Linked DNA regions of Homo sapiens. The protein of the gene in region 3 interacts with the protein of the main gene of each other region in a biochemical or structural test. Each region holds a gene or a part of one and is shown on either strand. Other genes may lie near its edges.

The links.
Region 1: of the proteins of MCM6 (region 3) and DBF4, one has a biochemical effect on the other in vitro, tested with the Homo sapiens proteins (2 studies listed by BioGRID).
Region 2: of the proteins of MCM6 (region 3) and CDC7, one has a biochemical effect on the other in vitro, tested with the Homo sapiens proteins (2 studies listed by BioGRID).
Region 4: the proteins of MCM6 (region 3) and RNF125 form a complex in vitro, tested with the Homo sapiens proteins (one study listed by BioGRID).

Annotation. Positions count from the first base shown.
Region 1 is NC_000007.14:87,893,469-87,900,495, reverse strand, and holds part of DBF4 (protein DBF4 homolog A), read right to left. Parts: intron 4,023-7,027; coding exon 3,986-4,022; intron 3,203-3,985; coding exon 3,157-3,202; intron 276-3,156; coding exon 147-275; intron 1-146. UniProt on the Homo sapiens protein: Regulatory subunit for CDC7 which activates its kinase activity thereby playing a central role in DNA replication and cell proliferation. Required for progression of S phase.
Region 2 is NC_000001.11:91,496,697-91,503,865, reverse strand, and holds the start of CDC7 (cell division cycle 7-related protein kinase), read right to left. Parts: upstream 3,016-7,169; 5' UTR 2,918-3,015; exon of another isoform or gene 2,213-2,917; 5' UTR 2,150-2,212; coding exon 2,035-2,149; intron 1-2,034. UniProt on the Homo sapiens protein: Kinase involved in initiation of DNA replication. Phosphorylates critical substrates that regulate the G1/S phase transition and initiation of DNA replication, such as MCM proteins and CLASPIN.
Region 3 is NC_000002.12:135,866,417-135,873,443, forward strand, and holds part of MCM6 (DNA replication licensing factor MCM6), read right to left. Parts: intron 6,428-7,027; coding exon 6,281-6,427; intron 3,946-6,280; coding exon 3,835-3,945; intron 2,445-3,834; coding exon 2,195-2,444; intron 313-2,194; coding exon 147-312; intron 1-146. UniProt on the Homo sapiens protein: Acts as a component of the MCM2-7 complex (MCM complex) which is the replicative helicase essential for 'once per cell cycle' DNA replication initiation and elongation in eukaryotic cells.
Region 4 is NC_000018.10:32,014,735-32,021,843, reverse strand, and holds the start of RNF125 (E3 ubiquitin-protein ligase RNF125), read right to left. Parts: upstream 3,020-7,109; 5' UTR 2,981-3,019; coding exon 2,817-2,980; intron 1-2,816. UniProt on the Homo sapiens protein: E3 ubiquitin-protein ligase that mediates ubiquitination and subsequent proteasomal degradation of target proteins, such as RIGI, MAVS/IPS1, IFIH1/MDA5, JAK1 and p53/TP53.

The DNA.
Region 1 (7,027 bases), on a different chromosome or scaffold from region 3:
AGATTCAGACTTATAAAAGTAATCAGAATAGTAATTACAAACACAAATAACCATTATGGCATAAATGAAACTATTTCAAATCTTTACAAAGAAAAATTGAGATGAAATTCTGAATATTCCTTCTAAAAGTAAAGATTCAAACCAACCTTAGTTTAACCTGAGTTTGCTTTTGCATACTAGATGGCTTGTCTACATCAAATGGACTGCAGGGCTTCTGAATAGAATAATTTATAAAAGGCATATTGGTCAGCTGAAGATAAAATGGCCTATAAAGTCTAGAAGAATAAAAAGACAAATACATGAGATTCTTTATGATTAAAGAAAAAAGGTTTAAAGTTTTGTATTTCAAAATCATATAATTAAGCTGGAATCTGAAATAACAAATTATTTAGGCTTTCCTTCAAAAAATCAATTTCAGGCCTAACAATTTTTAACATTTAAACATTTTTTAAATTGTGGTAAAATACACATAAAATTTATTACCTTAACCATTTTAAGTGTACAATTCAGTTGCATTAAGTATTCACAATGCTGTGGTACCATCACTGCTACCGTCCATCTTTTGTAAGATGACGTATTTTCATCTTGCAAAAACTGAAACTCTATACCCATCAAACAGTAACTTCCCAAATATCCTTTCTCCATATCCCCTGACAACCACCATTCTACTTCTTGTTATCAGTTTGACTAACGTAGATGCTTCAGGAGTGGAATCATGCAGTATTTTTTGTCTTATTTCACTTAGCATAACGTCTTAAAGGTTTATCCATGTTGCACGTGTCAGAATTTCATTCCTTTTAAAGGCTGAGTAATATTCCATTGAGTGTGTGTACACACACATCCTGCATACTGTTTATCCATTAATTTGCTGATGGACTTGGATTACTTTCACTTTTTGGCTGCTTAATAGTAGCCATCCTAAATAATGTAAAGTGGTATCTCACTGTGGTTTAGATTTGCAATTCCCTCATGATTAGTAATGTTGAGCATCTTTTCATATGCTTATTGGCTATTTGTGTATCACCTCTGGAAAAATGTCTATTCAGCGCTTTGCCCCTTTTTAAAATTGGGTTGTTTTGTTGTTGACTTGTAATTCTTAATATATTCTGGATATTAACATTTATTAGATATATGACTTGTTCAACCTGAGAAAGCTGAAAAAAAGAAATAGATACATGACTTGCAGTATCTTCTTCCATCCTTTCGGTTGCCTTTTTACTGTTATATCCCTTTAGGCACAGAAATTTATATTTTTGATATGGTCCAATTTAATTATTTTATCTTTTGTAATCTGTGTTTTTGGTGTCACGTCCAGGAAAGCACTGCAAATCCAATGTCATGAAGCTTTTCCCCTGTGTTCTCTCCAAGAGTTTTACCATTTTAGGTCTTTGGTCCATTTTGAGTTAATTTTTGAACATGATGTGAGGTAGGAGTCTAATGCCATTCTTTTGCATGTGTATATCTAGTTTTCTCAACACTGTTAAAAAAGACTGTCCTTTCTCCATTAAATTATCTTCATACCCTTGTTGAAAATCATTTGGCCATATGTGTGATGGTTTATTTCTAGGCTCTCTATTCTATTCCATTCGTTTATATGTCTTTATTCCAATGCCAAATTGTTCTGATTTCTGTAGCATTACAGTAAGTTTTAAAACCAGAAAGTGTGAGACCTCTTACTTTGTTGTTCTTTTTTTTTTTTTTTTTTGAGACGGAGTCTTGCTCTGTCCCCCAGGCTGAAGTGTAGTGGCGTGATCTCGGCTCACTGCAAGCTCTGCCTCCCGGGTTCACGCCATTCTCCTGCCTCAGCCTCCTGAGTAGCTGGGACTACAGGTGCCCGCCACCAGGCCCGGCTAATTTTTTATATTTTTAGTAGAGACAGGGTTTCACCGTATTAGCCAGGATGGTCTCCATCTCCTGAACTCGTGATCTGCCTGCCTCGGCCTCCCAAAGTGCTAGGATTACAGGAGTGAGCCACCGCGCCTGGCCTTTGTTGTTATTTTTAATGATTGTCTTGGGTTTCCTGCATCTGTTACAATTCCGTATGAATTCTAGGATACGTTTTTACTATTTCTGCAAAAAACATCATTGGGATTTTGATAGGGATTGCAGTGAATCTGTAGATCACTTTGGGTGGTATTAACATCTTAACAATATTATATCTTCCAATTCATGAACATGGGATGTCCTTTCGTATACTAGTGTCTTTTCTAGGCCTCCTTTTGAATTGCACTTTTTTCTTCACAGCAACACATTTCATAAAAAGCAGTTTTCAATACACTTTTGTCGCCTCAGTGTGAGTACCCAAGAGAATTAACCACAGATGTCTAAATGAATAAGTGGAAAGAAAAAAGAAAGTAATCTAATTCTCTCATGGCAGGCCTATTTATATCTGTGGTCTTCATTAAGATTATCCCACATGGCTGGGCACAGTGGCTCACGCCTGTAATCCCCGCACTTTGGGAGGCTGAGGCAGGCGGATCACTTGAGGTCAAGAGTTAGAGACTAGCCTGGCCAACATGGTGAAACCCCATCTCTACTAAAAATACAAACATCAGCTGGGCATGGTGGCGTAGACCCATAATCCCAGCTACTTGGGAGGCTGAGGCAGGAGAATTGCTTGAACCGGGGGTGGGGTGGACGTTGCAGTGAGCCGAGATCGTGCCACTGCACTCTAGCCTGGGTGACAGAGCAAGACTCCATCTCAAAAAATCAAAACAAACAACAACAACAACAAGACTATCCTACAATACTTCAGAATTTTGGAAATCAACCATGTTAGATGTTATACTTAGATTTTCTGTTTCTAAATAGCATCTAATAATTTCTTTTTCGCAAATGAAGGCGTAATCTTTCAGTAGTTCTAAATCATTTGGTACTGCATTTAGCCAGAGAATAATTTAAATACTAAAAAAACGGTGTCATGATTTTTCTAAACCAGCTATTTCAGGAATATCTACAACATACTGAAACTAAATTCAGTCCTTGAGCACAAATGAATTAATGCTACTTTCGTTAACTTGTGCCGCATGCACATTAGTATAATATAAATCAAACACAAAGGAACCTAACAGTACTAATCGAGCTAGCCTAATTAGTTAGGTGATTTTCCTCTTTAGTATTGCACTTAAATCATACAGATTGGACTTAAATACTTACTGGCTCATATCTTCCACCTTTACAAAAGGCTTTTTGAGTCTTCCTGCTTGAGAACATAGAAAACATATTAGATACTTGCAAATTCAGGATTCTTTTTTTTTTTTAATAAAACTACTGTGGCAAAACAAAACCCTCCAAACAAAAAACTATGTATCCACTTTAAAGTTTTAAGCCTCAGATGAGGTACTTCCATTATCACCTCATTTCCAAAAATAACAGAAGCTCTCTCCTATATTCTGAGATTCTTAAACTAAATGGAACCCTCAAATTAACAGGATTCAGGAAGGTCATAAATTAGAACAGGAGAAAAACTACACTATTGTCTTCACTAACCTCAAACTGAAATTTAGCATTTCCTTCAATTATAAATGTAACAAATCACACTATTCGCAGTACCTGCGACTTTGATGCTAATAGAAACTGCACATATTTTCATCAGTTATGAACTGCTTGAGCAGATATCTCAAAGCATTGTTTACGCTTATCAATTCAAAATGAAGTGGCAATTAGATTCACTGCTAGAATCTGTTCTGTGTAATAAAAAGCAAGTTATCACTATTTCACAATTAAAAACTATTTTGGTAACTACATTTTAATATAATTCATTTTCTTGGTAGACTAATGATTTTTAAAGGAAACGTTTTAAAAAAAACATCATTCTGAAAATGCGGTCCACAGGCTTCACCAAACTTCACCAAGGATCTATGTTCTATAAAGACGAAGAAAGCCTTGAATAAATCATTTAGAGGGTGGTTTATATGATTTTAGAAGATCTTTTATGATTTTTCAAATGCAAACCAAATACACTTAAAGATCACAAAATACTTACTTCTTGTTTTTTGTGCACCACTACCAACTCTTTTGCCCTAAAAAAAAATATATAGTGAAAAGATTGGCTTTGAAAGTACAGTTAAAACAGCAACTGCAATTGCTCAGTATCTTCAAGATAAAAAAATCATGCAGAAAAGTGCTATATCAAAGAAGGATTATTCTTTGTTAAAAAAAACTATTGTTTTTAAATGTTTTACAATACACTCAGCAAGTACCTTGCATTCTAGCTATAATTGATTTTGACTTCATAAAAAGAAAACCAATAATGAAAAGGTAGTTAATGAAATGTTTTTTTAAAAGTCATATTATTTTTATGCCCTTATTCAGCAAAATCTTTGTATTAAATTGAATAAAGAAATTAGTCAACATTTATTAGTCAGTCAATTTAGGCAAAGATTCAATATGTTAAAGATGGATAATCAACTCCACTGATTACAACTAGAAACTCTGGACAACACTGAATAAGCAACTACCTGAAGAATGAAAAGTAAAATAAGCAGGCAGATTGTGGAAGGAAGTCAAAACTGGAACCTTCAGTCATGGAGTTAGCAGCAGTGGCAGAGCCAGCAGCTAAAACTCCTATCTTTCTGGCAGGAAGAACCAGGAATGAGGTTCAAGTGGCCAAAAATACCAAGAGAATCCCTGTATTATTTTCTTTTCTCCCACAGTTCTGCCCTGAGGGTGGGTCCCAATTAGGAGGCTGAGATTGTAAAGGTAGTACAAGCTTAAGCTAACATTGAGAAACCCTCACTTTCTGACTAGAAGACCTGGGAAAGAGGCCACTGCAAGCTGGAGATTGATCCATGAAAAGAGCAAGTTAGAGAAAGGGATCCCTAATTCCCTATATAAATCCATGCAAGTGCAGGGCTTACCTCCAAGTTGCACATGCTAAGGATAGACCCAACGCAGCATAGCAAGGGCTTTGAAAATTGAAACTGAGATTAGATCCACCCCACCCACAACCACCAAGACAGAACAGTCTGAACAAAACTGGGATGACTGTCCGCTAAAACAATGGCAGAAACAAAATCAGCATCCTACAGACTATCAGGATATAGGGCCTACACAACATTTAGAATGTCCAGTATACAGTCAAAACTTAAATTTCACATGTAAACAACCAGAAAAACATTATCAATTTTTGAGAGAAAAGGACAATCAGATGCCAACCCCAACATGTTCCTGATATTGTAATTATTAGAAAAAGACTTTAAAAGTAAAGGTAAACACACTTAAGATGAATGGAAAGAGACAAATTCTCAGCAGAAAAACTACAAATAAGAACCAAACAAAAATAATAGGACTGAAAAATATACTATCTGAGTGAGATAACAAAATTCACTGGATAAGCTCAATAGCAGAACATGTATGACACAATTAAGTATTAGTGAACTTCAAGACAAATGAATAGAAATCTCCAATTGGAAGAAAAGAGGAAACAAAAAAGACTAAGGAAAAAAGGAAAAGAGCCACAGGGATCTGTGGAATAACATCAAGATGTCTAACTTTATTGTCAACTGGAATGGTGGAAAAAGAGGGGAGAGACTAGTGAAGAAAAAAAATTAACAAAATAATAGCTGAAAACTTTCCAAACATAAATTTACACAAATCAATAAGCTCAGTGAACCAAGTGTAGGCACAATCGAACTTCTGAAACCAAAGATAAAGAAAAAAATCTTAAAAGCAGCCAGAGAAAAATGATACAGTAGATATAAATGAATACCAATTTGAGTAACTGCAGATTTCTCGTCAGAATCCATGGAGACCAGAAGACAGTTTTAGGACAAGAGTAAGGTGCTGAGACAAAGAACTCTCAATTCATGATTCTTTTTCCAGTAAAGATATGATCACATGAAGGATATCTCAGAGAATTCCTTGTGCCACCAGATTTGCTCTAAAACATGCTAAAGTAAGTCCTTCAGGCTAAAGGGATATATCCGAAGAAAACCTGTAATTTCAGGAAGGAAGAGTAATGGAAAGGTTAACATCTGGGTTAATAGGACTATTTTCCTCCTGTCGCTTTCTTTAAAACCCAACTTTTTTTTTCTTTTTTTTCCCCGAGACAGGGTCTTGCCCTGTCGCAAGCAGTGGCATGATCTTGCCTCTCTGCAACCTCCGCCTCTTGGGCTAAGGCCATCATGCCACCTCAGCCTCCTAAGCAGGTGGGACTACAGGCGCATGCCACCAGGCCTGGCTAATTTATATATATATTTTTTGTAGAGATGGGGTTTCACCATGTTGCCCAGGCTGGTCTCGAACTTCTGAGCTAAAGTGATCCACCCACCTTGGCCTCCCAAAGTGCTGGGATGACAGGTGTGAGCCACCAGGCCCAGCCCTAAAATATGACTTTTTCAAGCAAAAAGTTTAACATTGTCTGGTGACATTTTCATTATAAGAAGATGTACTAAACATTATGGCATAAAGGTTGGTGGGGAAGGTAAAAGGGCTTGAATATTTTAAGGCTTCTACATTTTATTTGAAGAAGGTAAATATTAATTCAAGATAGATTGCGAAAGGTCACACATGTATATCGTAAATCCTATAGCAACCACTAAAATAAAACAACAAAAATGAAGAGAGTTAAAAAGCTGGCAGATCAATCTGAAAGAAGGCAGGAAAGGGGGAAACAGAAATAAAATACAGAGGGCATCAGCAGAAAACTAACAGTAAGATGGTAGACCTAAATACAAGATCAATAGTTACATTAAGTATAAATCACTTAAACTACCAATTAAAAGACAGATTGCCAAATTTGATGAAAAAGACAATATCTGCAAGAAGTCCATTTTAAATATATAGATATGTTAAATGCAAAAGACTGCAAAAAGTACTATGTAAATACTAATAAAAATAAAGCCAGAATGGTCTACATCAGAGAGCAGACTTCAGAATAAGAATTAACAGGGACAGAAGAGAGAGCATTACAGAGGCTAGAAGGGTCAATTCACCAGGAAGACATAAGAAGGCCGGGCGCGGTGGCTCACGCCTGTAATCCCAGCACTTTGGGAGGCCGAGGCGGGTGGATCATGAGGTCAGGAGA
Region 2 (7,169 bases), on a different chromosome or scaffold from region 3:
TATTCTGGTTCTCTTTTCAAAAACAAAAACAAAACAAGATCCCAATTTAGTTTCTAAAAAATGTACCTATGTATGCCTAGAAAGGCTAAAGGAATATAACAAAATGTCAACAGTGGCAATATTTCAATAATGGGAAAAGACTTTATTTTGGCTTTCTTTACTTCAAAAATTTCAATAATCATGTTTATCAGAAAAATGTTATAAAAATCTGACAAATATCTCAAAATAAAGAGACATGCTATTCATCCATTACACTAAGTATTTTACTTTATATCCTTACATTAAATCATTCATTCAAATATTTTCAAGCACCTACTATGTGCTGGACACTGTTAAGCTCTGGGAATGCTAAGATATATAAAACATCCAATCAAAAATATAACTTCAATAAGGAGTAAAGTTGATGAGGTGCAGGCATATACCTGTCTCATGATCTAATTTGATTTACTTTCCCAATTAGATTACTAGACTGTTATGTGCCTGGACCTCATCAGCTTTGCTCCCTATTGAAGTTATGTTTATATAACTTTAGCTGTTATTAAGATCATATTTAAAAAAGAACCATAAGAGTAAAGTTTTAGCACGTTTTATAATTTATCATATTATAATGTCCAATGTTCTGTTACATAAACGCTACAAAACTTTTGAAATCCGTAATAAAATTCACCCCATTCATTACTTCCCAGCAGATTTTCAGAATATTAGAATAGTGGCATTCTCCTAAACATGATGCTAGAACCAATTCAGAGTCATCCATTCAGATACTCTGCTGAAGTCACAACATACTTTAGAAACCAGAGGAGATACTGCCGCCAAGGGGTTTACAGTGGAGACAAAATGCAGAGTCCTAAGCAATAGAAAAAGAATACTACAATGACTGTGTTACTGTGTTATGTGTCCAGTGACTAGTAAGGGAAAGATGAACTAAAAAAACAGCTAACTGCTGGAAAAATGGAAAGGAAGAGGAACAGTATCCATGAAACTGGATGAAAGTGGCATTTTAAGATTATTCTAGCACCAACATACAAGATGAACTGAAGAATGGAAAAGTGCAAGCAGGCAGCATAGGTGAGAAACTGTTGTAAATCAGGAACAAAGTGTAAGGAAATTAATTAATGTGGTGGAAATGGGAATGGAAAGAAGACACAATGCCATACTTACTAAAAAGAAATAAAGCTAGGTGACGATATGGGGAACAAATAAAAAGCATCAGCTGAAGATTAAAGTTTCAAGTTTAGGTAAGTGGGATAACTGACTTCCATCAAAGCAGAAAGTATGTGATGTCATATTTTTCTAGGGTGGGGTTATAAAGAATATATGGACAAAAGGTCAAAATAAGTATCTTTTAGACAAGCACAGAATTCACTTAAGACAAAGATGGGAAAGATGATCTGGCTACCCTTTCAGAAAAAAAAAAATACAGTCAACTAGAATTCCTCTATTTAACAAATATTTATTATTAACAAATACCTACTATGTCCCAGGTCCTGTGCCAGAGCAGAAATGAAGGTACACATGCGAGTGTACAAGAGCAGGCACTGCTTGACCCTGTCTTATTCACCCTAAGGTCTGGTTTACGGTCAAAGAACATTTCATGCTGTACACTGAGATATGGTGCTTTATTATTGCTACAAACATTTCATATTTTTTTGTCTGTGAGTTCTGCTTTTGAATACTTAAGTGATGATCTCCAGTGTCAATTTCTACATTTAAGCTTAAGGCAATGTGGTGAGTAGAGATAAGAACACAGATACAAAAGAGAAATTTAATTTGGGCATCATCAAATTTCTGCATTCTTAATTACCAATACTGAGACCATAGCAACTTCAACCGTAAAACAGGTTGTATTACAGTCTTCCAAATCGCAATTCAGTCCTACATTTAGATCATACGAAGCTCTGTTTTAACACTGTCCTATAGAAACATACAATTCACTTTATAAGATTCAATCTTATTTTTTGAGAGGAATTGAAAACACAGAATTGTTGCCTGAAAAATCTTTATAACTGTACATCTTTGGATTTAAACACGTACCTGCAAGTTTAAAATTCTGCTCGTTTTTTTTTAAAGAGCCTTCAGCCTGAAACCGGTCACGCTGGGGAGAAAAAGCCATTGGCTCATCCATCTGAATCCCCAAAGACGCCTCCATCACAAGCCAATTGAGATGCAAAATGCCAGCTAAGGGGTTACATCCACAGGGGGAGCAAAGCAGCTGTGAAAATTAGAACACTAGAGAAATTTAGATCACTCGCTAAACCACGCACTAAAAACATGCTACTGCCCCCCAAAGGGGCAAACATTTTCAAACGCACGATGTGTCCAAACCTCCACAGTAGGGCATACTGTGGCCTTGTCTAAGGAATTCCATGTGCTTTATTTTCACCTATCAGAAACACCGGCAGGGGGCTGCAGGGAGAATTTCCCGGCTTGGGCACCCGCGCAGCAGCAGGCGCAGTGGGAAACGGCGAGGCTGCCAGTCCGGCACAGCCAGCGGGACCGCGTGGGGGAGGGGCCGAGCGCCGGGGGCGGTTTGAAGTCAGGAAAAGAACTGAGGGAGAAAACCTTTTCGCCACTGACAGGAAGCGCCAGGAGGCTCGTCCAAGGCCCCAAGCAAGTTGACGGAGAACTGATACGACCCTGGCCACGAGTACTGGGCGGAGGAGGAGAAGGGTGAATGAATGGGAATCCGCCGGCCAGCGCTGGCCGCGAGCTCAGCCGGGAAGGACCGGCTTCCCTCGGGCCAGAGACCGAACCAGATGCTTAGTGCGCAGGCGCGCGACTTTCCCGCCGCAGGTCGGAGGGATCCGAAGGGGGGCGGGAAAAGGAACTGCACGGCGAGAAAACCGAAGTCACGATCCAGAATTCGTTCCTAATCCCTCACAATCCCGCGCCATGGAACAAACCGTCGGAAACTCACGGTTTAAGGGAGTACGACTTCTGTGGCTCCCCAGATGCCTGGGTCGCCGTCTCCAAGAGATCCCCACCTACCGAGTCGATCGGATGCGCCTGCGCAACACTTCCCGCCGCCGCTCTGGTTGCACATGCGCACACTAAAGCCCTCGACCCCGCGGATTCCGCTACTGGGCGTTTGCGCAAGAGGGTGGGGTTTCTTCCCGCCGCCTTGGCCAGCTAGAAGAGCGGTTACGGGAATGAAGCCCGTGGATGATCTTAAAAAACAGGGTGAACCATAAGGCTAAGGGCCCAGCATGATTTCCAGGAAAGAAGCTAGCTCAGAGAAGGAAAAATCTCAGGTGCTGACACATCCCTATATACGTGGCCGGCCGCACAACACATTGGGCACTCCATGGATAAAAGGCACTTTCTTGACTCTGCTTTTATTTCCTTTTCGTTGAGTGCCCTACTTCCCCGTTAAAAACAAGCAGAAAATGTAATTGCTGATTGTTTGTGGCTGTGTTAGTAGAAATTAGCACAGTGGCAGGAAGGCAGTGTATACTATTTACTGAGCCCTTGGCTATGAGGTAGGTGGGTTTTTCTAGGGGCTGGAATCATAGTGAGCAAGATAAACACCATCCCTGTAGGAAGCTAAATTCCAATGAAGCGATGACAATAACGGATGAATAAATGAACAGTATTCTTTCCGGCATTGATTACTACTTGAGGGAAATACTGACCAGGAAGGTGGCATCTAGATGGTCAGGGAAGCCCTCTCAAAGAGACCTGGATGAGAAAGAGCTGGTAGGGAGACTGTTGTCCTGGCAAAGAAAGGATAGGGCAAATGCAGAGAGAAAGAGGAACTTGGTATGTTGCAGGGGCAGGGCAGGAAAGGCCAGTGTGGGGGAAGCATAGTGAGTGAGCCGCAAGATAGTCCCAGATAGATGAAGGTGGAGAGTTAGGCAGAAGCCAGACCAGGGTCCTTGAAAGCCAGGGTAAGAAGTTTAGTGTTTGTTCTGAGTACAATTGGAAGCTATTTGAAAGTTTTAAAGCAAGGGAGTAATATGATCTATCTGTTATGAAGAGAATGGATTGTAGAGGGGCAAGTGTGGAAGCAGAGGAAATAGGATGCACTTTATGTTTAGGAGAAACATAATGGTAGTTTGGACCAGAACAATGGCGGAAGAAATAAAAGAAAGAAGACAATGGGATTTGGTGATTGGCTATGGAAAATGAAGAAAAGGGCATCATCAACAGTGAATCTTAGGTTTTGGGCTAGCATATGTGTGGGTGGTAGTGCCACATAGAAGGGAAGTCTGTGAGGTAATGGTTTTTGATTGAGTGAGGTGGAAGAGAGTAAATCAAGGATTCTAGTGTGGATACCGAGAAAGAGAAAAGCAGACCTTGACATCCAGGAGATGGCCTGGTACTACCAGCTTGGTTTGCTGTTGCTTTGAGCTGGCCTGGCAATCACAGCCAAGCATTGGTATTCTTCTGTTGAACATAAACAATTTCACAGAACATCAGACAAGACAGAGTTGTGACCGTGATAGATCAAGACAAAAGTAAGATCACTCTATAATCATATGTGAACACAGACACAACATCAACATTGCCCAAGCCATAAAAATGATCAAATATCTCCTTATCCTAGCTAATATGAGTGCCTGCTGCTTCTTTACCAATTATAGTTTTAACCTCAGTCTAGTCTTCCTTCCTTCTACATAATACTTATTAAAATACCCAATTATAGAATTATCCTTGCTTCCTTACAGCTTCCAATCCAGGCCAAAGTCCCTCTTTCTTGCACCCTTCCGTAAATCTCCTAACACAAACTCAAATTCTATAACAAGTCCTTTTTAACACCCTCTTCCTAAGACATCCCATGGTTCCCCATGGTGTGCATTCTCACGTACTGAAACAAGCAATACATCCAAGTTGCTCAGCTATAGTTGTGTTCCTGGTGGTCATTATCGGGAGGTCGTTAACAATAATCAAGTCCAAGATATGCAAGTGATGATGTCAAAGAAACAGATGAATATATTGGTCTGGGGTATAGTTCAGGGTGAAGAAATAAACTTGGCAGTTATGAATTTATAGATGAAACCTAGTCTTGGACTATACGATATTATCTAAGCAAAGATTGTAGATGGAGAGTTGGGCTATGATAACTTCCAACATTTCATAGTTGAGCAGAGGAGGAGGAAGAACCAGCAAGAGACTGAGAAGTAGTAGTCTGTGAGGTAAGAAGGTGATGTCATAGAAGTCAAGAGCAGAAAGTTTTACAATTAGAAGAAAGTGGTCAGCTATAGCAAATGCTTCACAGAAGTAGTGAGGATACAGAATTGATCAGAGATAGTCATTAGAGCCTTCAGAAAGAGCAGCTTTGGAGTGAGACAGAAAGACTATATTGAATTTATTGACGAACAAAAGATCTACAAATGGAGACAACTCTTGAGGTTTGGTTTGTTTCTTAGTTTGGTTTCTTGTCTTTATTGGGGGGTAGGGCGCACAAATAGAATAGTGGCTACAGTGTCAAATTGTTTATAAACTTTATACTAGCCGTGTAACTTGGGCAAGTTATTCAATATCTGTGACACTCCTATTTCAAAAATGTAACATGGATAAAATACTTGCTTGGTTTTGCTATAGGGATTAAATTAGATAAAGTGACATAATACATGTAAAGTGCTTGGTCCCATAGGCCTGGACATTGTTAGCTTGTATTAGTTAATTTATAATGGGTACTTTTTCCCCCTTTGTCAATGATCCCATCCCTAATACCTAGCACATGGCTGTTCACATAGTATGGATTTAATAAATGGCTATGGAATTAATGTACAATGAGAAGTTAGGTTTTATTTATTTATTTTTATTATTCATTCATTTATGTATTTACTTAGTAGAGACAGAGTCTCGCTCTGTTGCCCAGGCTAAAATGCAGTGGCATGATCATGAATCACTATAGCTCCGAGGCTCAAGCAATTCTCCTGCCACAGCGTCCCAAGTAGCAAGGATTACAGCTGTATGTCACCATGCTCAGCTAGACATTAGGTTTCAAATGGTTGGTTGCACTTATGTCTCCTGTAAGCAGATTGGAGGTGGAGATAGATTGTTTAATAAAAATTATTATTTAGAGATGTTGATAACTACATACACACAGTTTTCTTTAGGGTCAGACCAGTGCCTTTACCATTTTTCCTTCATAACATGTTTATTCTGCCTCCAGGTCTGTTTGTGCTGCATGTGCATGTGTGTGTGTGTGTGTGTGTGTGTGTGTGTGTGTGTGTGTGTCTTTTTGTCTTTTGTTTCTATCTCTGCATCCTCCAAAGTCAGTGAAGTTTTCTTTAGATAGCCTAGCCCAGGATCTGTCCCTTCCCTAACTCACGGCTGACCCATTATGGGCTGGAAGAAGTTACTAACTCAGAGTTAGCAAGAAAAGCCATGGACCTGTTTGTGCCAGTGAGATTGTGGATCTGTGCTATTGCAAAGGGATCCTGCCCTCCTAAGTGTCCTCTTGTCTTAGAGGGAGCACATGAGAACAATCTTATTAGTAGACTTCAAACTACTTAGGCACCAGGTAATCTGCATTTAGAAGCCAAGTGATTCTAAGAGTTGTCTGGGAAAACCAGATGCCCAGCTACTGGAGACCTTGAGGCCTGTGGAAATTTGAGTTGGGTGCAACTTCTCACTCTGGGAGAAATGGGGAGTCTCTGGTCAGTTGTACGGTGAACTCAGAATAGGTTCCCAGAACAACTTTCAAATAATTTTGCTCATCTCTCTCTCCATGAATGTCCCTACTAAAGGACACACCCCGCCCCCCCACACACACACCAAAAAAAAAAAAAAAAAAAAAAAAATGACTAGGAAAGAAAGAAATGACAAAGGAAAAGTTAGTGGAAGTCTTATCCCCCTTTCCACTATTATATATATAAATAGCTGACACACTGTCTTAGAACCTCCTATCTTTAAGGAATTTATTAACCTAGGATAGAAATAAAGCAGACCGGGTGTGGTGGCTCATGCCTGTAATCCCAGCACTTTGGGAGGTTGAGGCGGGCAGATAGCTTAAGTCCAGGAGTTTGAGACCAGCTTGGGCAACATGGTGAAATACTGTCTCTACAAAAAAATACCAAAAAATAAAAATAAAAGTAAAAAGGATTAGCTCAGCATGGTGGCACATACCTGTAGTCCCAGCTAATTGGGAGGCTGAGGTGGGAGGATTGCTTGAGCCTTGGGGGTTTAGTCTGCAGTGAGCTGTGATGGCACCACTGCAC
Region 3 (7,027 bases):
AAACCAATTTGTTTTTATTCTCATCACACTTCGTTCCTCAGCTTCTGATTGGTAGCCAAAAAGAAGACAATGAAGATGTGGGAAGCTAGATACTGTGCAGTTTAGGTAACTGAGAATTTGTTAAATTTGAGCCACAGATTACTGACCTGGTGTGCTAAGCTTGGAGACGTCAGGCACAACAATCAGTGTCCCTGTAAAGTCACACTTGTCACCAGCTTGAGCTGATTCCACAGCTTCAGCCCTTAAAATTACTTCTAAACTGCGGGGGATACTCCCTCGAGGAAGCTCAGCTTGGGTCTCTTGAATACGAACCTGTAATACAGACAAACAACCAACCAAGAATGAGAAGCAATACCTTTCAGATGCCATATAATCTAAATTAAATACCACAAATACGGACGTATTCTAAACTATCTGACCCATTAGCAGACTTTTCACATGTACCAACATTTATCCTAAAAATTATCTACTCTAAAACTCCTTTTAGTCAAATAGTTCAATTTGGCAAGAGATTACATCTATTTAAAAACTCCATGATGATTCAAGCAGCAGAGAAAAAAAAAACTTCACTTTTACTCATTAAAAAATAATTTTTTTCTTTGTTCAAAATGACTCCAAATATCTGTTCCATGCTCCATCTTCTCCTAAGCTTTAAGATAATTTTACAGAAAATTTCAAATACACCTTTTATACCCTCCACTTCAACACAACTGCTAACATTATTTACAGATACATGTTTTTTTACTATGTATTTGAACACAGTTGTGAACATCAAGAAACTTCATACCTAAATATTTTAGCATTCATCTCTAAGAATAAAGACAATCCTGTTACAATATCATTATCACAACCAAGATAATTAAACAATATTTAATTTCATAAAATTACATATCTTCTATTATCTAGTCCATCTTCAAATGTCTTGTCAAGAGTGTCCTTTATACAGTTGTGTTCCCCCCCCCAAACTAAGACCCAATCTAGATTCATACTTTATAAGATAAGACATCTCCTACCCAAAGCTGTTGGTAAAATATGTGCATCTTATAAGCTACCAGGTTAATGTAAGAAAGCCAAATAAGGAGAATGATTATCAGAGCAATATAAATAATATTAAATTCATCTGATAATAATTATTCCATACTTGAGCTGCTTCAGCTTTTCTTTCCATTTTGTATGTCCCATAAAATTAAGTCCTGCTGAAATCTGAGGGTCCCCTTCATTCTTACTACTGCCATCCATCACCTCTTGCCCAGGTAACTGAAATTGCCTATTACCCTCTGTTAAACCCATCACGGACTTATTCAGTTTGCTTTTAAAAAAAAACACACAGGCTGGGTGCAGTGGCTCACGCCTGTATCCCAGCACTTTGGGAGGCAGAGGCAGGCGGATCACGAAGTCAGGAGATCGAGACCATCCTGGTTTAACACGATGAAACCCTGTCTCTACTAAAAATACAAAAAATTAGCCGGGTGTGGTGGTGGGCACCTGTAGTCCCAGCTACTCGGGAGGCTGAGGCAGGAGAATGGCGTGAACCCAGGAGGCGGAGCTTGCAGTGAGCCGAGATCGCGCCACTGCACTCCAGCCTGGGTGACAGAGAGAGACTGTCTCAAAAAAAAACAAAAAACAAAACAAAACAAACACACACCCACACACACAAACTACCTTCCCACTATATTCCCACTGCTTATTAAGATAGGCTCAAACTCCTCAGCCTAAGATTTAGGGATCCAAGTACCTCCAGGTCTCACATCAAATCATCTCTCAGATGATCTCCAATTTGGCTCCTTTACTTCAATCATGATAATCCTCATTGCTTCCAAGCTAGCCTGTCCTATTCATGCTTTCCTTTCTATGCAGCAAATGGAAATCTTACACTAACAAGTTGCTATTTCTTTAAGTTTTCTTAACTCCAGTTCATAATGACAACCACCACCACCTAGTTACCATTTATTCTTTGACAAATACATCTTGTCAGTCTTAAGGAACTTCCAAGTTACTGAAAGTTAAAACAAATGTATATACTAACAATTATAATTTACATGAACAGTTTTGGGCTTAACTTTGTAGTCATTTTGATGATGCTTAACTTACATAAAAATTGAGTTGAACATTATCTAAATAAGCTATTGCAAGGGCCTAGAAGTGAATTATTATCATAGATGGACTCTGATCTAAACAGATGTTAAATAAATACCTTTTGAAAATCAACAAATCTTGATTTATTTGTATCCAGTAAGAATCTCCTCCTGTTGGCACAAACTGGATTTCGGCAGATGTTTGGCTGTGTGTATTTGAACTGCTGTTCTACATCCCTGATCACTGTCTGACAGTCCAAGCACAGAAAAGTTCCGCTCACAAGCTCTGGGTGAACTGGGTGAGTCCGCACCACCTGCCCACTGATGCGAGTGAGCAAACCAATTCTGGATGAGGTGAGCTCTCGAATCCTGTTTAAAGACAAATGTCCCATTAGTAAACATTCATCTCTTAACTAAGAATCTTTCCATTTTAGTGAGAGGGTATTCAAAGATAATTTATGTTTAAAAAAAAAATTCAAGAGACAAGGTATTCTTTGGACTCTCCTATAAGAATAATTTAGTCAACGTGCCCAATCCTAAATTATATGACGTATATGTATCCAGAACAAAATATATAAATGAACTAAAGGATGCCAAAAAAATGAAAATTAAAATTATAAAACAGAACGGGCTGGGCGCAGTGACTCACACCTGTAATCCCAGCACTTTGGGAGACCAAGGTGGGCGGATCATGAGGTCAAGAGATCAAGACCATCCTGGCCAACATGGCGAAACCCCACCTCTACTAAAAATACAAAAACTAGCCAGTCGTGGTGGCGGGCGCCTGTAATCCCAGCTACTCGGGGAGCCGAGGCAGGAGAATTGTTTGAACCCGGGAGGTGGAGGGTGCAGTGAGCCAAGATCGTGCCACTGCACTCTGGCCTGGGTGACAGAGCAAGACTCTGTCTCAGAAAAAAAAAAAAACAAAAACAGAATGATCCTGTTTTTGTTTTATATGCAAATACTTTTTTGCTTACCCGCAATTTCTAAAAAAAAAAGCATGTGTTACATAATAATCCTATCATGAGAAAAAATTTTGTACTCAAAGTTCAGAAACACTTCCTTTACAAACCCATTTTATGTGAAGTAATTTGGTAATTTTATAATTTCAGTAGTTTAACTTTTCAAAATATCACTTCAATTTTATCCAGTAAATTTATTCTTAAAATAACTGCCAAAGGGGTGTTTGAAAATTATGCATTTAAACCAACAAAAATTTCCAGAGATTCAGGAATTTCTAGAATTTCATATTTTCTCCCTTGATCAATTTTCTCCCAAATTTCCCTAAAAGGCGCCCTAAAATGTGATAATCCTAAAAATTTGCTTCACTCCCTTTACATCTAATCCCATCTCCATAGGAAAATACATTTCTCCAACACTAAACTTTCTGGATAAGTGGGTATAACTCCTACAAAAGTCAACCTTCTACAAAATCTGAATGCAAACCACTATTTTTTCCTCCTGGTATTTTACAGCATCAATTTTATAAGTACTTGTTTTATAATTATTGTGATTATCAATTATGAAAAAGTAATTTTACAGCAACAAACCTATTTTTTGCATGATTTAGGTAGAAAACCTAAGCCAAAAGACTTCACAGACAAGGAAACTGAGGCTCAGGGAGGTAAAAGTGATTTGTATAATGTTAAATAGCCAGCTAATAGCAGATCAAGGCAACCTCTCAAGTTTTCTGACTGTCAGCTAAGTGGTACTTATACCATTTGGTGAATTCCTTTTTTTCCAGAGAAGGGTTTCTTACTTGTGTCTGGTAGGCAGGTCTTGGAATGCAACATAAAAATCCTTGGCAAGAGGGATCTCTTTACGGTCTTTGACGAATGTTTTCAAGGCCCGACACAGGTAAGGGTAAACTCTGAAAAACAAAAAAGTCAGCTGATACCTTAGAGGTTTACCAAGGCCTCCTTCCCTTTACATACCTACCAACAGCCGAGATTAAGGAATTTCATCTGGTTACAACTAAACCTTAGAACTTAACTGTGTAGGACACTTCTATTATCTACTCTAGGTTTAGGACCCTCTTTCAGTTCTCTCCTATCCCACCGGAACACTAAATATAAAATGTCATACCATACCTGATTATCATATAGCACATAAATAATCATACAGCACCCACACTGTTGGCCATTCCTCTGTCCAAGATGACTAGCTGAACAATCATCTTGTCAATATTATGCTCAATACTGTGAATTTTCTGTGGGCTGTTTATGACTTAGTAAGTCATGTGTCAAGTCAGTCAATTTCTTTGGTTTCATTCTGAGACAAGGTCTCACTCTGTCACCCAGACTGGAGTGCAGTGGCACGATCACAGCTCACTGCAGCCTCAATCTACCTAGGCTCAGGTGATCCTCCCATCTCAGCTTGCTGAGTAGCTGGCACTACAGGCATGCACCACCATGCCCAGCTAATTTTTGTGGGGTTTTTTTTGTAGAAATGGGATTTCACCATGTTGTCCAGGCTGGTCTCAAACTCCTGGGCTCAAGTGATCTATCCACCTCAGCCTCCCAAAGTGTTAGGATTACAGGTGTGAGCCACCACATCTGGCTGGTTTGATAAGAAATGGATGAGGACAGGAGAAGTATTTGTGCACTAATGTGAGAACAAATTGGCAAAAATGCTCCATTTGACTGGTGAGAGTGAAGTATGCATGTCCTTTTGATATGTTTCTAATACCTACTCCAGCTTAGTTTGTTTAAGAAGTGGGGTCTGAAACCCTCTAAAAAAGGCGCTACTCTCAGGAAAGAGAACTGCTGCCTGGCTTGTGCATGAGGCATGGCACAGCTGCTTCTACCACCAGGCTTGATTGTCTACCTCTCCCTTATTTGTCAGTGCTATAACTTCTACTGCTGCATGCTTTCACAATAAATCCTGTTGCTTACTTACCCCCTCCAATTATTCTTGATCATCAGCTATGACCAGAAACACAGACAAATCCTCCATCTCCTAATCTACTAAGAAATGAACGAGACTGTGCCTCCTTATCCCTGGGTTTTCATTTATCTTTCACAACTGTCCACAATTTATTTTAACCTGATTCTATTTCTATAGACTGTCACATTTATTTAATCCTAATACAAAGTCTTGTGTGCAAAGATGTTTCTTGCTATATATAACAAGTCAAAACAAAATAAAAGCCTTCTATTAAATATAATGTCTAACCATAGTATTTCTACCAAAAAACCACAATTGGAGCTATTAGTATGAGTTTAAGAAATTTTATATGAATTTGAGTAATTTCATACACAGCATACACACAAAGACATCAAAATGTGACAGAAGATCCTTACAAAACTCTGCACTTGCAGACTTGGAAGGCTCCTGGAACTCTGTTGTAGCAGATCTGCTAATGACGGTGGTGGATTACAAGTGTATAAGCAATTTAATTCTCCTTACTCTTCTCCATTTTCTACAATATATACCTATTACTTTTATAAGCGAAAACAAAATTAAACTTTAAGGGAACAAGAAGTACAACAACGTCAATGCTGTAAAGATATCCCCAGTACAAGAAAAGGACCCACACAAACACCTATTCCTGTGGGGAAAAAGGATCAATGGAATGACACAAAAGTAAGTAAGTACAGTTTTCCTCTTGGGAAAACTATATAGAAAGCAAAGATTTTCAACATTTGTATTTGAAAAAAAAAGTTCAGCTCTGGCCGGGCACGGTGGCTCACGCCTGTAATCCCAGCATTTTGGGAGGCCGAGGCGGGCGGATCACCTGAGATCAGGAGTTCGAGACCAGCCTGACCAACATGGTGACACCCCGTCTCTATTAAAAAATGTAAATAATTAGCCGGGCGTGATGGTGGGCGCCTGTAATCCCAGCTATTCGGGAGGCTGACGCAGAAGAATCGCTTGAACCCGGGAGGCAGAGGTTGCAGTGAGCCAAGATCGCGCCACTGCATTTCGGCCTAGGTGTGACAGAGCAAGACTCCGTCTCAAAAAACAAACAAACAAACAAACAAACAAAACACAACAACAAAAAAACGTTCGGCTCTACAAAGGCCTACATGAAGTTCAGAGCAGTACTAAAACGACCACTGGCAGTATCAAAGCGCCTCTTCTCAGTGGGAAATAACTGTGAAAGCTGACCTTCTGCTACACAAGTGAACACTTACAGTCCAAGAAGAGCTGGCTTCCCGGATTTCAACCCCTATTCAAAGTAAAGAAGATTAATATGCCCATACCTATAGAACTCCTCTTGAATGGTGGTGGAAAGTTGCTGGTTAAATTGTTCCAGGTCCACAAAACTCACAACCAATGTGTTTCTCTCAGGACGAATCAGTTCCTCTGCTAATTGCAAGTATTTAATTTCTCCATCGCTGCTCTGAAACCTGCAGGTACATTCGAGTCAACTAGATTAAGGACACAGGCAGTACAAAGAACCTGAATGATAATTCAGAACATTGGTTAAAGTCCAACAACTAGGCTCAGACAGGCCCATGTTTGGCAGTTCTGTAACTTGGGGCAAGTTACTCCTCCCTTCTGATATGGTTTGGCTGTGTCCCCACCCAAATCTCGACTTGAATTTCCACATGTTGTGGGAGGCACCTGGTGGGAGTTAATTGAAGCATGGGGACAAGTCTTTCCCCTGCTGTTCTCTGATAGTAAGTCTCACGAGATCTGATGGTTTTAAAAAGAGGAGTTCCTCTGCACAAGCTCTCTTTGCCTGATGCCATCCACGTAAGACATCAGTGACTTGCTCCTCCTTGCCTTCCACCATGATTGTGAGGTTTAACTGCTAACTAACAAAAAAACCCAACAACTAACTCTTCTTTTACTACTGTCATGTATAATTAAGATTGGAAAATGTTAAATCAAGAAATTCAGTCTCAAACCCAATGATTCCATTTCTGTAGGGAATTTGCAAACTAACAAATTAGTCAGGGATTTAAGAAGCAGAACAGAAATAAGAATACATGGAAATGAGGTGT
Region 4 (7,109 bases), on a different chromosome or scaffold from region 3:
CCTATTCACTTTAACAAAGAAAAAGATTAAACAAAAAATTTAACATTTTGCAAATTTATATTATCCTTTAGTAGAAGGAAAAATATTGTAAATGGTAAATTATAATATTCAAAGTCCAAACCGAGAAAACAATCTCCAGTCAGATCATTGAATAGCAAAGCGGTCTGTTCCAAAAAGAATCTTCAAAACGCCCACTGTTTATGTTTTGCACAACTTTAAAGTTTTAATGCTAATAATGACTCAATTTAAATGGAGATATCTTTAGGCTGTTATTGCCCTAAAATAATCAATATATTTTATGACTCACACAGCCCATCTTGGCTTCCAGACTGGCCTGTGGATATTATGTTAATAAGCTACATCTGGACAGCTGAGCAACAACATCAGTAATAGAAAGGAGGGTAAATTTAAGCCTCGAGTTTTAAGAACAAAGCTGAAACAACAGGCCTTGAAAATACAGCTACGGCCGGGCTCCATGGCTCACGCCTGTAATCCCAGCACTTTGGGAGGCCGAGGCGGGCAGATCACGAGGTCAGGAGATCAAGACCATCCTGGCTAACACGGTGAAACCCCGTCTCTACTAAATATACAAAAAAATTAGCCGGGCGTGGTGGCGGCACCTGTAGTCCCAGCTACTCGGGAGGCTGAGGCAGGAGAATGGCGTGAACCCGGGAGGCGGAGCTTGCAGTGAGCCAAGATCGTGCCACTGCACTCCAGCCTGGGCAACACAGCAAGACTCCATCTCAAAAGAAAAGAAAACACAGCTACGAAATAATGCCCAAAGCACTCTTTATTTATACATTGTGCAGGCTGCACACTTTTGTCCCTGGCTCACAGACGGGCAGTAGTGAAAACTGCTTTTCAGATACAAGGCTATAGGTATTAAGGATTACCTAAGTCCTTTCAAAACTTTCTTTTTTTTCTTTCTTTTTTTTGAGACTGAGTTTTGCTCTGTTGCCCGGGCTAGAGTGCAATGATGCCATCTCAGCTCACTGCAACCTCTGCCTCCCAGGTTCAAGCAGTTCTCCTGCCTCAGCCTCCCAGGTAGCTGGGATTACAGGCACGGGTCACCACACCTGGCTAATTTTTGTATTTTTAGTAGAGACGAGGTTTCACCATGTCGGCCAGGCTGGTCTCGAACTCCTGACCTCAGGTGATCCATCCACCTCGGCTTCCCAAAGTGCTAGGATTACAGGTGTGAGCCACCACGCCGGGCGTCAAAACTTTTGACTGCAAGTGCACAACATGTTTTTAAGGACTACCTAAATCCTTTCAAAAGTGGTCCTCAAAAACATGTTGTGCACTTGCATTCATAATAACGGTATTTCTTTCTTCCTGCTAAGCCAAATGCTGGTACAAGCCACTGTGGTATCACACATGGCTTCATCATACTATAGTCACCCTTCAAAGGACATTAAGTAGGCTTCCGCTCCTGATCTGTGCAGACACAACACACACACACGTATCCACGAAAAAAAATCAAAGCAAAGAGAGAAGGCTGGGTGCAGTGGCTCACACCTTTAATCCCAGCACTTTGGGAGGCCGAGGTGGGTGGATCAATTGAGGTCAGGAGTTCAAGACCAGCCTGGCCAACATGGTGAAACCCCATCTCTACTCAAAATTCAAAAACTAGCCGGGTGTGGGGGTGGGCGCCTGTAATCCCAGCAACTCGGGAGGCTGAGGCAGGAGACTCACTTGAGCCTGGGAGGCGGAGGTTGCAGTGGGCGGAGGTTGCAGTGAGCCGAGATAGCACCACCGCACTCCAGCCTGGGCGACAGAGCCAGACTACGTCTCTCTCTCTCTCTCTCAAACACACACACACACACACACACACACACACAGTAAACAGAGAGCACAAATTCACAGCTCCAACTCCACCAGTTATTCAAACACACATTAAGGATGTGCCAATTTTATATAGGGACTTTGTTTTTAAATTCTTCTTAGAAACGACCACGGCTTTGCACCAACTGTGAGTTTTAGCTAAGTACTATGCGGTTTTGAGAAAGTTATTTTACTCTGTAATTTCCGCCGGTTTGGAGAGACCGTGCGTAAAGCAGGTAGCCTGCCACCTCCTGTTACGTTGTGGCTGGGTTTTGAAGGAGTACATTCAGGGGCTTGGCGGCTAACGTCCAAGCCCCACCCTAGCAGGTTGTTAAACTCTAACAACTGTGGAAAGTCACTCGGAAGCTCCAGTTTGACTTGCCCTTTGAGGGGCTGGGTGTCTGTGTTGGGAAAGGGTAGCAGGGGTGGGGGTGGAAAGACACTTTGCACAGATCCTTGTTTGCTTAAGACGAGCCTCTGTGGGCATTCTGGGAACACGTGCACAGCTCCAGCAAAACAAAACGGACCCGGGTTTCTGGGGCAGAGGGAAGCGCAGCCCGTTCTACCGTGTTCAGCGGGGTAACTGCGCTTTGCGGGAGCCCCTGCCTTGTAGCTGGAGCTCGTTTCCTTTCCGTGCCTGGGCGAGCGCTGGTTCTCCAGCCAAGAGCACCCTCCCCAGTTGGCGAGCCCTGGCTCTGGGCGGGACCCGTGCCTGGATCCCCTTCTCTGGAGTTCCGCACCTGGGCTTCGGGAGCTGAAAGCGCAAGGGGGCTACAGGACCCGCTTGTTTATTTTTTCTCCTCCCGAAATCCTGTGTCACCTTCCGACCCGCGTTTTCCCCGTGGTCCTGCATCCGACGGGTCCAGGTTTCTCCCTGCAGCAATTTCCTAAGAGGCTGTCTTCCGTCCCCCTCCTTCCCCACACCATGCCCTCAGCTTCCCCACATCGCCCTCCTTAGGGGTGGGCGCAAACCGAGCTCCCCTGGAACTTACACGTGGCCACAGCGGGTCCGGACAGGCTGGTGTAACACCTCAAGGCACACGGCGCAGTCGAAGGACGTGACGGGCAACTCCGGGTCCCTCCTGCGCTCCAGGGCCCGCGCGGTGGCAGAGGCGGGCGCCGATTTGCCGCTGTCGGTGCTCAGCACGGAGCCCATCGCTGTGCCTCTCGCCCAGACAGCTGCGAAGCACTCAGTGCCTGCCGCAGGGTTGTTTTGTTGCCGTGCGGTGGAGGAAGGAAGTCCCGGCCCAGCTGCGATCGCCGCCTCCCAGCTCTCCCAGCTCGCGCAGCCCAGAAGCCACCTCCGCCGCTGCGCCCAACCCTGGTCTAGGGCAGGGCGAGCGCGCGGCCGCGGGGCTGAGATCTTCGGCAAGCCGCCTAGGTTAAGGCGCGGAGGCGGAGGCGGCAGCCGCCCCGTGCTCTGTCTTGTGGTATTGGGAGGATTGAAACCTGAAACCTCAACTGCAGAGAAGAGGACTTGAGGCAGCAGTAAACCTTCCAAGCTATCACACACAGCTGCTTTCCCCACTGTCAGAAGTTAAGTGCGGGCGTGGCCATGCTTAATGATAATCAGAGAACAGCCGCTTTTAAGGTGAAGTGGAAGACCATCCTCCACTGTTGTCATCACAATAAGCTGCAAAAATGACCTATGACCTATGATTGGGCGTCTCCTAAGACGGTGCTATCGCTACTCTGTCATCCAATCAATAGTCCATTAATGGAGAGATAGCCTGGGTAGTGGAAAGAGTCCTGGAGATTAGGATTCCAATCTTACCTCTCCTACAGAGATTCTAGTGCTAAACCCTGCCATCTCCAGTTTCCTCTGCGGCTCAGGATTTCCTCTGTTGTTTGTACGCTCCCCACCCCGCCCTTTAAACATGATCAGCCAGGCGCGGTGGCCCACGCCTGTAATTCCAACACTTTGGGAGGCCGAGGCGGGCTTGAAACTCCTGCTTGAGGGCAGGAGTTCGAGACCAGCCTGGCCAACATGGTGAAACCCCGTCGCTGCTAATAATACAAAAATTAGCCGGGCGTTAATTTACACTTTTTACGAAGACTTATTTAGTGCCCACTGCACGCCAGACTCGGTTCTAGTGATGAAGACACAATCGTCAACAAGCAAACAAAATCCCAGTTCTCACAGAACTTACTTTAAAAAACAAAAACAAAACTTTGAGATAATTATAGATTCACATACAGTTGTAAGAATAGTACATAGTATATAATACACATATACAATAATATATAATATAACACATGGGATATAATAACGCATATAATACATGTACGTATTTAGCAGGCCATAAACTTCACCCAGGCTTTACTTTTAATTAGGAGATATAGGCCGGGTACCGTGGCTCACGCCTGTAATTTCAGCACTTTGGGAGGCTGAGGTGGGAGGATCACTTGAGCACGGGAGCCAAGATCACACTACTGCACTCCGTCCTGTGCGACAGAGTGAGACCATGTCTCAAAAAACAAACCAAGCCGGGGCAGTGGCTCACGCCTGTAATCCCAGCACTTTGGGAGGCAAGAAGGACAGATCACCTGAGGTCAGGAGTTTGAGACCAGCCTGGCCAACATGGTGAAACCCTGTCTCTACTAAAAATACAAAACTTAGCTGGGTGTGAGCTACTTGGGAGGCTGAGGCACAAGAATCGCTTGAACCGGAAAGGTGGAGGCTGCAGTGAGCCGAGATCATGCCACTGCACTCCAGCCTGGGCAACAGAGGGAGACCCTGTCTCAAAAAACCAAAACAGGCTGGGTGCAGTGGCTCACGCCTGAAATCCCAGCAATTTGGGAGGCCGAGGCAGGTGGATCACAAGGTCAGGAGTTCAAGACCAGCCTGGCCAACATAGTGAAACCCCGTCTCTACTAGAAATACATTTCTTTAGTAAAAATTTTTGTACTAAAAATACAAAAATTAGCCAGGTGTGGTGGCACATGCGTGTAGTCCCAGCTACTTGGGAGGCTGAGGCAGGAGAACCACTTGCACCCAAGAGGTGGAGGTTGCAGTGAGCCGAGACCATGCCACTACACTCCATCGTGGGTAACAGAGCGAGACTCTGTCTCAAAAACAAACAACAAACAAAAGGAAGATACATGTAATCAATCCATAAACAAATGAACAAAATCATTTCAGATAATCAGAGCCATGAAGAAGATAAAACAGTAAATGGCAATGAGGAGAAGAATAAGCTCAGAGAAGAATTTTTGGATGAAGTGACATTTGAGCAGAGCCATGAATAATGAAAAGAAGTGAGCCATTCAAAGATTTAGGAAAAAGCGTGGACTGGGAACAGTGAATGAGGCAGAACCAAAGAAAGGAAAGACCTATGGAGCTGGAGCATGGGTGGTGGGGGGCAGGCGGTGGGGGGGGGGAAATAAGATGAAAAGGTAGTTATTCCCATCTTCAAAAGGAAAACAAAAACCTCCCTTTCATCCCACTTATGCCTCAACTCCTGCCCCATATCCGCTTCAAGGCCAAATCTCTTGATCTGATCCTCTACATTTTGTCATCATTTCTTAATTATTCACTTCTTATTCAGTCCAGTCTGGGTTCTGAACCAACCTCTCCACCTCCATCTGTCCAAAAACTGCTTTATTATCAGTGTCACTGGTGACGTTCATGTAACTAATTCCAATAGATTCTTTTCAGCTATTTTTTTTGCTTGACCCCTCAACTATGTTTGTTAGTGCTGACCATCCCCTCCTTCTGGAAACACTCTGACTTTCCCTCTTTCTTTCTGGCTATTGTTTCTTCTCCCTTGCCAGAGTCTCCTTCTCCACTGGCTCTGGGCTGGAGATCCTAGGATTCTGTCTTAGGACCTTTTCCCTTCTCCTCTCTCTCTCTTTCTCTCTTTCTCTTTCTCTCAAAAATCACACAGGTTCTGTCACTATTTCGGTTCCAAAAACTTTCACATCTTTATCTCTACCCCAGGCCATTCAAATGTCCAATAGCCTAATAGCTTACATGACTGACCATTTGACATAAACACCCTCAGCCCAATGTCTCCAATAATGAACTCATTATAGTAGCAGCCTCCTCCAGTGGTTGATCTCTCTTTTAGCAAATGGCACTATGATCCACTTTATAGCTCAGTCTAGACACCTGGAAGTCATCCTTGATTTCTTCCTCTTCCTCATTCACATTGAATCAAGCATAATCACAATCCTGCCTCCAATATGTATCTCAGTAGTTCTTTTTTTTCTGAGATGAAGTCTCTCTCTGTCGCCCAGGCTGGAAGTGTGCAGTGGCGCAATCTCAGCTCACTGCAACCTCTGCCTCCTGGGTTCAAGTGATTCTCCTGCCTCAGCCTCCTGAGTAGCTGGGATTGCAGGCGCATGCCACCACACCCGGCTAATTTTATTATATTTTTGGTAGAGACGGAGTTTCACCATGTTGGCCAGGCTAGTCGTGAACTCCTGACCTCATGATCCGCCTGCCTTGGCCTCCCAAAGTGCTGGGATTACAGGCGTGAGCCACCATGCTCATTTTCTTCTATTTCCATAGCCACCGCTTATTTTAAATCACTGCATTCTCTTGTGTGACTTAATGGCAGTAGTTCCTAACTGCTCTACCCGCATCCATCATTGCCTCTCTCCAGTTTATTATCCACATGGCAACTAAAGTGATCTTTTGAAAAGCAAACATCTTGTGTCACCCCATGCACAAAATCCTTTAATAGCTCTCCTAATCCTTAGGATTAAATTCCAAATCCTTAATATTATCTAAAAATTCCTGCAAGACTTACTTTTGATGGCAGGAATCAGAAATTCAACTAAAAGTGCCTCGTTCAGTAAGGATATTTATTATCGACCAGCTCAGTGGCTTACACCTGTAATCCCAGCACTTTGGGAGGCAGAGGCAGGCTGATCATGAGGTCAGGAGTTCGAGACCAGCCTGGCCAACGTGATGAAACTCCATCTCTAATAAAAATACAAAAATTAGCCGGGCATGGTGGCACACACTTGTAAGCCCAGCTACTCAGGAGGCTGAGGCAGGAGACTCGCTTGAACCCAGGAGGTAGAGGTTGCAGTGAGCCAAGATCATGTCACTGCACTCTAGCCTGGGGCAACAGAGCAAGACTCTGTCTCAAAAAAAAAAAAGATATTTATTATCGAATATGGCAAACTAGTCCAGGTGTAAACAGTTCCAGAGATGTCTCAGCAGCTCAATTATGTCCTCACAGCCTCAGCCCCTTGCCATCCTCAGCATGTCTCCCTTATGGCTGAAACAGTCAATTCTATACACAACCTCCAAAAACAAAAAGGAAAGGGTAAGA